Homo sapiens: one gene and its partner. The protein of the gene in region 1 purifies or fractionates together with the protein of each later gene. This does not show direct contact. Each region holds a gene or a part of one and is shown on either strand. Other genes may lie near its edges. The genes, in order: CLIC2 and CDO1.

Region 1 (3,820 bases):
TACAAAAATCAACTCAAAATGGACTGAAGACTTAAACATAATACTCAAAACTATAAAAATAATAAGAGAAAACCTAGGGAAAATTCTTCTGGACATTGTTCTAGACAAATAATTTATGATTGAGATGTCAAAAGCACAGGCAATAGAAACAAAAATAGACAAATAGGACTCAAGTAAACTAAAAAGCTTCTGCACAGCAAAAGAAATGAGTGAAGAGACAACCTTTTGAATGAGAGGAAATGTTTGCAAACTTCAACAGGGGACTAATATCCAGAATATACAAGGAAATCAAACAACTCAACAATAAAAAAAATCTCATAAAATATGGGCAAAGGGCATGGCCAAAATGTACATAAAGAAATGCTCAACTTTACTAATCAACAGAGAAATGCAAACCAAAACCAAAATGAGATATCATCTCACCTCAGTCAGAATTGCTATTATTAAAAAGACAAAAAAAAAATTAACAGACGTTGGCAAGGATGTGGAGAAAAAGGAACTCTTATACACTGTTTTTGGGAGTATAAATATAGCCACTATGGAAAACAGCATGGAGATTTCTGAAAAAACCAAAAGTAGCACTACCATAAGATCCAAAAATCTCACTAATTGGCATTTATCCAAAGCACGAGAAATCAGTATGTCAAAGGGATACCTGCACTCTCATGTTTATTATTGCATTATTCACAATAGACAAGGTATGGAATCGATCTAAGTGTCCATCAACAGATAAATGGATAAAGAAAGTGTGGTATACATACACAATGAAATAGTATTCAGCCATAAAAGAGAATGAAATCCTGTCATTTGGAACAACATGGATGGAACTGGAGTTGTTATGTCAAGTGAAATAAGCCAGGCACAAAAAGACAAAAATAGCATGTTCTCACTTATATGTGGGAGTTAAAAAAGTTGATCACATGAAGATAGAGAATGGAAAGAGAGATAACAGAGACTGGGGAGGGTGATTGGGAGGAGAAGGGAAGATGAAGAGAAGTGTGTTAAAAAGTACACACATAAATAAGATAGAAGGAATAAATTCAATGTTTGATAGAAGAGCAGGGTGACTATAGTTACAAAAATGTATTGTATTTGGGTTATGGACACCGTAGATACCTTGACTTTATCACTATGCATTACATACACATAATAGAATTTCATATGTATCCCATAATTTGTACTGATAAAAAAATTTAAAAGAAAGTGAACCATCAGGCCAGGCGCAGTGGCTCACGCCTGTAATCCCAGCACTTTGGGAGGCCGAGGCCGGTGGATCACAAGGTCAGGAGATTGAGACCATCCTGGCTAACACGGTGAAACCTCATCTCTACTAAAATTACAAAAAAAAAAAAAAAAAATTAGCCGGGCGTGGTGGCGGGCATCTGTAGTCCCAGCTACTCGGGAGGCTGAGGCAGGAGAATGGCGTGAACCCGAGACCCGAGAGGCGGAGCTTGCAGTGAGCCAACATGTGCCACTGCCCTCCAGCCTGGGCGACAGAGCGAGACTCCGGTCTCAAAAAAAAAAAAAAAAAAAAAAAAAAGAAGGTGAACCATCAGAGAGACATTCTCCTGCAGGTTTTAGAGGAAGAGAACAATCAGCCATGTTGCGAAATGCCTATACAGAGGGGCAGCCTCTAGTAATTGAATGCCAACCCAACCCCAACAAACAGCTACCCAATAACCTAAGACCTCAGTCATATAGCTGCAAGGAACTGAATTCTGCCAAAAACTTGAATGAAGATGGAAGAGTCACCTGGGCCCCATATGATAACTGTGTTCCCGACCAACACCTTGAATGCCACTTTTTGATACCCTGAGCAGAGGACCTTAGCAGGCTATGCCCAGACAACTGACCAATGGAAGCTGTGAGATAATAAATAGCTGTTGTTTTAAGATACTAAGTTTGTGGTAATTTGTTACACAGCAATAGAAAATTAATACAGCATGCTTCTTGTTTCTAGACCTATCCTGGGTAGACAGAGATGTGCGGTTGTCATTCAAGTGTAGGCAGTACAGTTCTGGCCTCTGGTTAACTGCTTGAAGTCTATGTCCTGGCCACTAGCCCTCGTGTTGGGTATGTTCTGTCATTTCGTCAGTGGTGTTAAGGACCAGTCATGACCAATCCTTATGAATTACATAGTGTTAGTATCCCATTCCCTCACTCCCATCTCACTATATGTTCCTACTCTATTTCTAGAGCACAGAGAACTTACCTTCTTGTGTTATGTATGTTATGCAGCTTTTAAAAATTATTTGAAATATTACACATATCATCTTTTTGTATTTGAAGTTGGAGGGGTATGTTTATGCATGTGTGTCATTTGACATGTAGGCCCAGAAATCCAAAAGTACTTAAATTGGTAAGAATACTAAATCTGCAATAAACAAGCCAGTAAAATAGATTATCTTCAGCAAAATAGTATCTTGTAAATGCTGTACCTTGGAGGAGCCAGGGTTTGTTCTAAAAACTCCTCAATTTTAATGAAGTCTGTTTTCAACTCCTTGTTATACACCAGGAACGGAGGATTGGTACCTGGGGCTAAGTCCTTTAGTTCTTCAGGCTTTCTATGATTATTAAAAATAAGCAGAGTTAGGTCTCTAGATAAAGTACACATTAAATAAACACCAATATTTTATTGGTATCTACCAATCTCAATTCCTAGAATTTAACATGTCCTGATTTCTCTTACCTGGTCATGTCAACAGTTGTCACATTAAATTTAACTCCTTTAAGCCAGAGGATCATGAAAAGGCGTTGGCAAAAGGGACAGTTTCCAATACTCTCTCCATCACTTCCAGCCTATTAAGATAAAGAGAGACCTCAGTTCATTTGTTTGTTCAATAAGTATGTATTTAGTTCCTAATAGGAAATGAGCCAGTTGCTAGAGACAAACATGGACATTCTTAATCTCATGTACTCCATCATCTATGGACAGAGAGATATAGGGAAGCAAATAATCTCATTATATGTAAAGTTACAACTGTGATGGGTACATAATAATAATAATAAATTTTATATATTATCAGAATTTATATAATTTTCCTATTGATAGACATTTAAGATATTCCAAAATTATTACTACTCTAAGCACTTCAGAAACAAACATTTCTGGGCATATAGCTTCTTCCACTTCTGAGATTATATCTTTAAGGTTAATCTTTAAAATGAAAATGGTCAGTAAAATGTATGCACATTTCCCATTTTGATAGATCTTACCAAATTTCCTTTCTTTTTTTTTTATTATTATACTTTAAGTTTTAGGGTACATGTGCACATTGTGCAGGTTAGTTACATATGTATACATGTGCCATGCTGGTGCGCTGCACCCACTAACTCGTCATCTAGCATTAGGTATATCTCCTGATGTTATCCCTCCCCCCTCCCCCCACCCCACAACAGTCCCCAGAGTGTGATATTCCCCTTCCTGTGTCCATGTGATCTCATTGTTCAATTCCCACCTATGAGTGAGAATATGCGGTGTTTGGTTTTTTGTTCTTGCGATAGTTTACTGAGAATGATGATTTCCAATTTCATCCATGTCCCTACAAAGGACATGAACTCCTCATTTTCTATGGCTGCATAGTATTCCATGGTGTATATATGCCACATTTTCTGAATCCAGTCTATCATTGTTGGACATTTGGGTTGGTTCCAAGTCTTTGCTATTGTGAATAATGCCGCAATAAACATACGTGTGCATGTGTCTTTATAGCAGCATGATTTATAGTTCTTTGGGTATATACCCAGTAATGGGATGGCTGGGTCAAATGGTATTTCCAGTTCTAGATCCCTGAGGAATCGCCACACTGACTTCCACAAT
Region 2 (4,267 bases), on another chromosome or scaffold:
CATTACTGGTTGAGGCAAGAATGTTGCTATTGTTTTTTTTTTTTTCTTTTTTCTGCCTGTAGCTAAATCAAGACTTGAGAAACAAGGTTTCATTAAATAGCTGTTCTAGAATTCTTAGTTTTACTAAAGCCTAGACACAAACCACATTCAAAAGCCCTTATAATGAAAAGTCTTCCACAAATACCGTGGGGGCTGATCTAACTACCAGAACAAAGAAGACTACATTAGTGAAGTAAAGAACCCTCTAAACCTCTTACAATTAGGAGAAACCAGTAACTGGCAAACACATACACACAGACACACTCACCACAACCAACCACCACCACTGCCACCACCAACAACAAACTGCAAACCACGACCACGACTGTGAAAAAAGCAAAATCAACGTCAAAGTTTCTATTGGTCCAAGGTGTACTGTTGACAGCATCTAGTTAGCAAAGTTTCATAATTATGACATTCATTTAGACTGTCATGTTAAAGAAAAGGGGTCTTTACTCCATTTTTTGGGAGTTTTTTTTCCCTTCGTCATCGGTTAACTCTTGTCCAGCATGCCCCTTCCATCCTGTCCCATTCCTCCCCACCCCGAGGTGTCCGAAGAGCATGATCCTAGAGGGAGTTACTTAGTAAGTGCTTTTTAGCCTCAGTTTTCCCTACTTTGTAGCCTTTATGACCTAACAAGAAGCTGTGTACACAACCTTCAATTCACAGTAAACTGAGTTCCTGCAGAAGGATCCTAATTCTTCCTCCAGAAGTCTTAGGATAATCTTTGTTGCTTCTCTGCAGCTTCTTTCAAAGAATTCACAGCCTGGCCCACACGGGAGCATATTCTGTCTTGATTCTTCTGCACTGGCCCTCCCAAAGTCAGAGAACAGAATCCTTCACAGCGCTAGGCACCTATTTAATGCAAAAAATACTGTAGAATTGACTTCTCTCCCATCTCCTGTCTTCCCCCAACTGCCCCCTCGGGACTACATCCATTATGTTAATGAGCTGTACCTCAGATATCTGTGAAAAGACCGATCAACCCAGCTGGTTGCACTTCAAAAGCTTTAGAGTTTGTCAATCGAGACTAGTTCAAGGTCCTTGAAAATACACTTGTTCTAAAGATTAAAGATTAAAAACTGTTACAACCTGTCCTGGTTTAACAGTGGTTTAGAGTGTAGGCTCTGGAACAACAATGCTAACCCCGGGAGCCTGGAGCCGCTATCGATAGAAGACCTAGTGCAAGTCATTCAACTTCTTCATTGCCTGCCATTCCTCATATGTGTCAAGTGTCTGGAAGAGTACCTGTCCCATAACAAGTCTTCAATTACCTGGAGCAAATGCAAGAAAATTTAAAAGCTAGACTCTCTGCTAGCTTTCACGGCTACAGAAGGGCTCTACCATGAACTAAGCTGATAGGAGCCAAAGGAATTTCCTCAAGTCACTTGTATATGAAAAATGGGATCCTTAGTGGTCTTCACTTTTTCTATTTCAAATCCTAAAATACAGTTGAAACCGCCCATGCCAACAAAACTTTACGAAACATCCCACATGTTGAAGAGTGACTAAAAGAACCTGCTCCCAAGAAAAACAAACTTACTTCTTTCCTTATTCTTTTCTTTCACTTACCCCTTTCTCCTAACCCTAAACCCAAAAAACCACAAAGACTGACGCACTAACTGCTCAGAAAAAGTAGAACCTCTCACACTTCGGGGTGATTAAATTTTACCTCTGGCCCCGGAGGATTGGTAGAGAGATTCGACTTAATCACCAAGCCGGGGCTGCAAAAAAGCCAGCTTACCAGGGCACCTCACTCAAGTACATCTGGGAAGTAGGGGTCTTTAATTTACATTACAGATCGTCAGAAGCAAGGATAAGATAAATCAGATCATTTGGGGGCTGAAAAAAACGACGGTCGAATATTTAATCTGCGAAACTTGGCAGTGGATTTGAATAAACCCACAGTCGGGGAAGTTAGTTAAATTGGTTTGGGAAAGGGAACAGCAGAAATTCCGTAGTGGCAGCTGACGGCCACAAGACGCTATTTTACATGAGTAAAAATGCTTGCTATAAGGTGCCCGGTTGCAGGCGACCGAAGGCGCAGTGATGGAGAACTGACGCGGGTGACTTGTCTTCTTCAACATCACACACTTCTCCCGATGGCTGATGTAGTGCTCCCCTGGGAGCACCCTCTGCTAGTCCGGCCAGACGGTTCCTTAAGGTGTCAGGAGGGCCCGAACCTGAGTGCGGTCTCTCCGCATCTCCGCGCCCGGGGTTAACGATGGCTTGGGAGTGTGGGCATTGCTCCCGAGGCCAGGGGCAGGAGGACTGGTGGTTTAGAAGCAGAGGGGTTTGCGGGAGAGAAGAGAACAGAAAATCTCGCAGACGCGCGGTGGCCTCCCTTCCCGGCGCCTGTCCGCCGTTCCCGGCCGGAGGTCAGCAAGGCCAGTAGGATCCACCTTCCGCCTGCGCTGTGGCCGCGGAGCCCCAAGCGAGTCGTGCCAGCCCCGCGGCTGGCCAGCGAGGGGGCGAGCGGCGGACGCAGCGCGGCCCGAGCTTCCCGAGCCAGTCACTTTGGGCTGCGTCCCCCACGTCCATTCCTCCTCAGACGGGGCGAGTGGGCGCCGCCTGGCATTGAAGCTGCAGCGCGCTCACCTGTACTGGTCGAACTTGGCGTACATTGCCCACTCGGTGGGGTCGCTCTCGTAGGCTTCCATGATGGCCTGCACCTCCTCTACATTGACCTCATCGCCGGCAAAGAGCTGGTGCAGGATGCGGATCAGATCAGCCAGGGTCCGTGGCTTCAGCACTTCGGTCTGTTCCATCTCGTGGGGAGCTGGCTGCGCGCGCGTCTCACTGCTGGGCTGCGGTGGAGGAGCTGAGCGAGCCAAGGAGCTGGGGGCGAGGGAGCCTAACAGCCCGCTAGACCGCTAAGCAGACACACACGCACAAACCCAGCATTAGAGTGCCGAAACGTAAGGATGTCGTCGCAGAGACAGCAAGAGACCCACCCCCAGGCCCCTGGCAGCGCAGTGGATCCGGGATCGCTGGAGACGCGGTGCACACACAAATCAGGTTCAGATCTGTGGGGTTCATCCTCCCGGGCCCCTTTTAAGCGCTTGGAGTCACTAGGAATGTACCAACGGCCCTCGGAGGGAGGACGAGGCGGAGAGCCACCCAAGAAAGGTGGCGGAGGCGGGGAGACCCTGCGGGCACGGCTCACGCGCACATCCCCGGCTTCCCCGGGCTCCGCGCCTTCCCAAGAGCCCCGTTGTCTCCGGCGTCCCAGGGATCGCGTGGGCTCCGCGCAATCTCTCCCCCACTTTAACGGCGCGTTTTAGCCGCCCGGCCTAACGCCTCTCCCCGCTCCACCTCCGCCGCTGTGGTTCGCGACGCTGGGACGTAGACAAAAAGGGTCGGAGGAGATGGCTGCGGGGACTGACGCTGAGTAAAGGAGGAAAAGAAAAGGGAAGGAGAGGGACACTTCTTCCAAATAGAGAATTGTGAGGAGCCTGCGAAAATTGAGGATGGATTCCACTCCTAGGCCAGAGAGTGCCTGTTTTGTCGATTGAAACTATCCACGATATGCCCCAGGCTAGGTGAAAATAAGTCCAAGACTTTATATATATATATATTTAAGTATACACACACACATATTTTTTAAAATGCGTACTGAAATATATTTTGACAAAGGAGACTCGGGTCTCTAGTAAGACAATTAGTGAAATGATGGAAAACCAAGAACTCTTTGATTTTAAAATCAAATATTTTCTTTTAAAAAATATCCAGTGCAAATAACCTGATATTTCATTTGATGGTGTAAAAGGGGGCTTTTTCTGAGGGGATAGGGCGGGCTCTGACGCAATAATTTAAGAGGCTATAATTATATTTGAATCTTTCAACCTTAGGCATGTGCTTGAAGGAGCCTGCTAGTACATACATATAAGGAAACACGTTTCTACGTCATGCATAGCACCTAGTACGTTGGGAACAACACAAATCAAGTACAGTAGGATTTAAATGAGAAAGATGTGAAAGGTGGAAGAAATGCAAGTGTAGATTTCTTCCTTCTCATTATGGATGGACGCAGGGAATAATTTGGATTTAAGGTTATTAAAGTTCTAGACTTCTGAAGACCTGTTTTTTTCTAGACTATGATCACCCTCCCTCGTGTATATACATGTATACAATGAAATTTACTTGTGCCAGGTAGTCTTAAACATCTCTGGTAAAACTCGCTACATTATATTCTAACAGTGTTGTTAAAAGCGGAATCACCTATTGT

What was found.
Region 2: the proteins of CLIC2 (region 1) and CDO1 fractionate together in Homo sapiens (co-fractionation; one large-scale study listed by BioGRID). This does not show direct contact.

What each region holds. Positions count from the first base shown.
Region 1 is NC_000023.11:155,296,347-155,300,166, forward strand, and holds part of CLIC2 (chloride intracellular channel protein 2), read right to left. Parts: intron 2,800-3,820; coding exon 2,690-2,799; intron 2,565-2,689; coding exon 2,439-2,564; intron 1-2,438. UniProt on the Homo sapiens protein: In the soluble state, catalyzes glutaredoxin-like thiol disulfide exchange reactions with reduced glutathione as electron donor. Displays weak glutathione peroxidase activity. Can insert into membranes and form chloride ion channels.
Region 2 is NC_000005.10:115,813,591-115,817,857, forward strand, and holds the start of CDO1 (cysteine dioxygenase type 1), read right to left. Parts: upstream 3,070-4,267; 5' UTR 2,808-3,069; coding exon 2,638-2,807; exon of another isoform or gene 997-2,637; intron 895-996; exon of another isoform or gene 603-894; coding exon of another isoform or gene 496-602; intron 365-495; coding exon of another isoform or gene 308-364; intron 1-307. UniProt on the Homo sapiens protein: Catalyzes the oxidation of cysteine to cysteine sulfinic acid with addition of molecular dioxygen.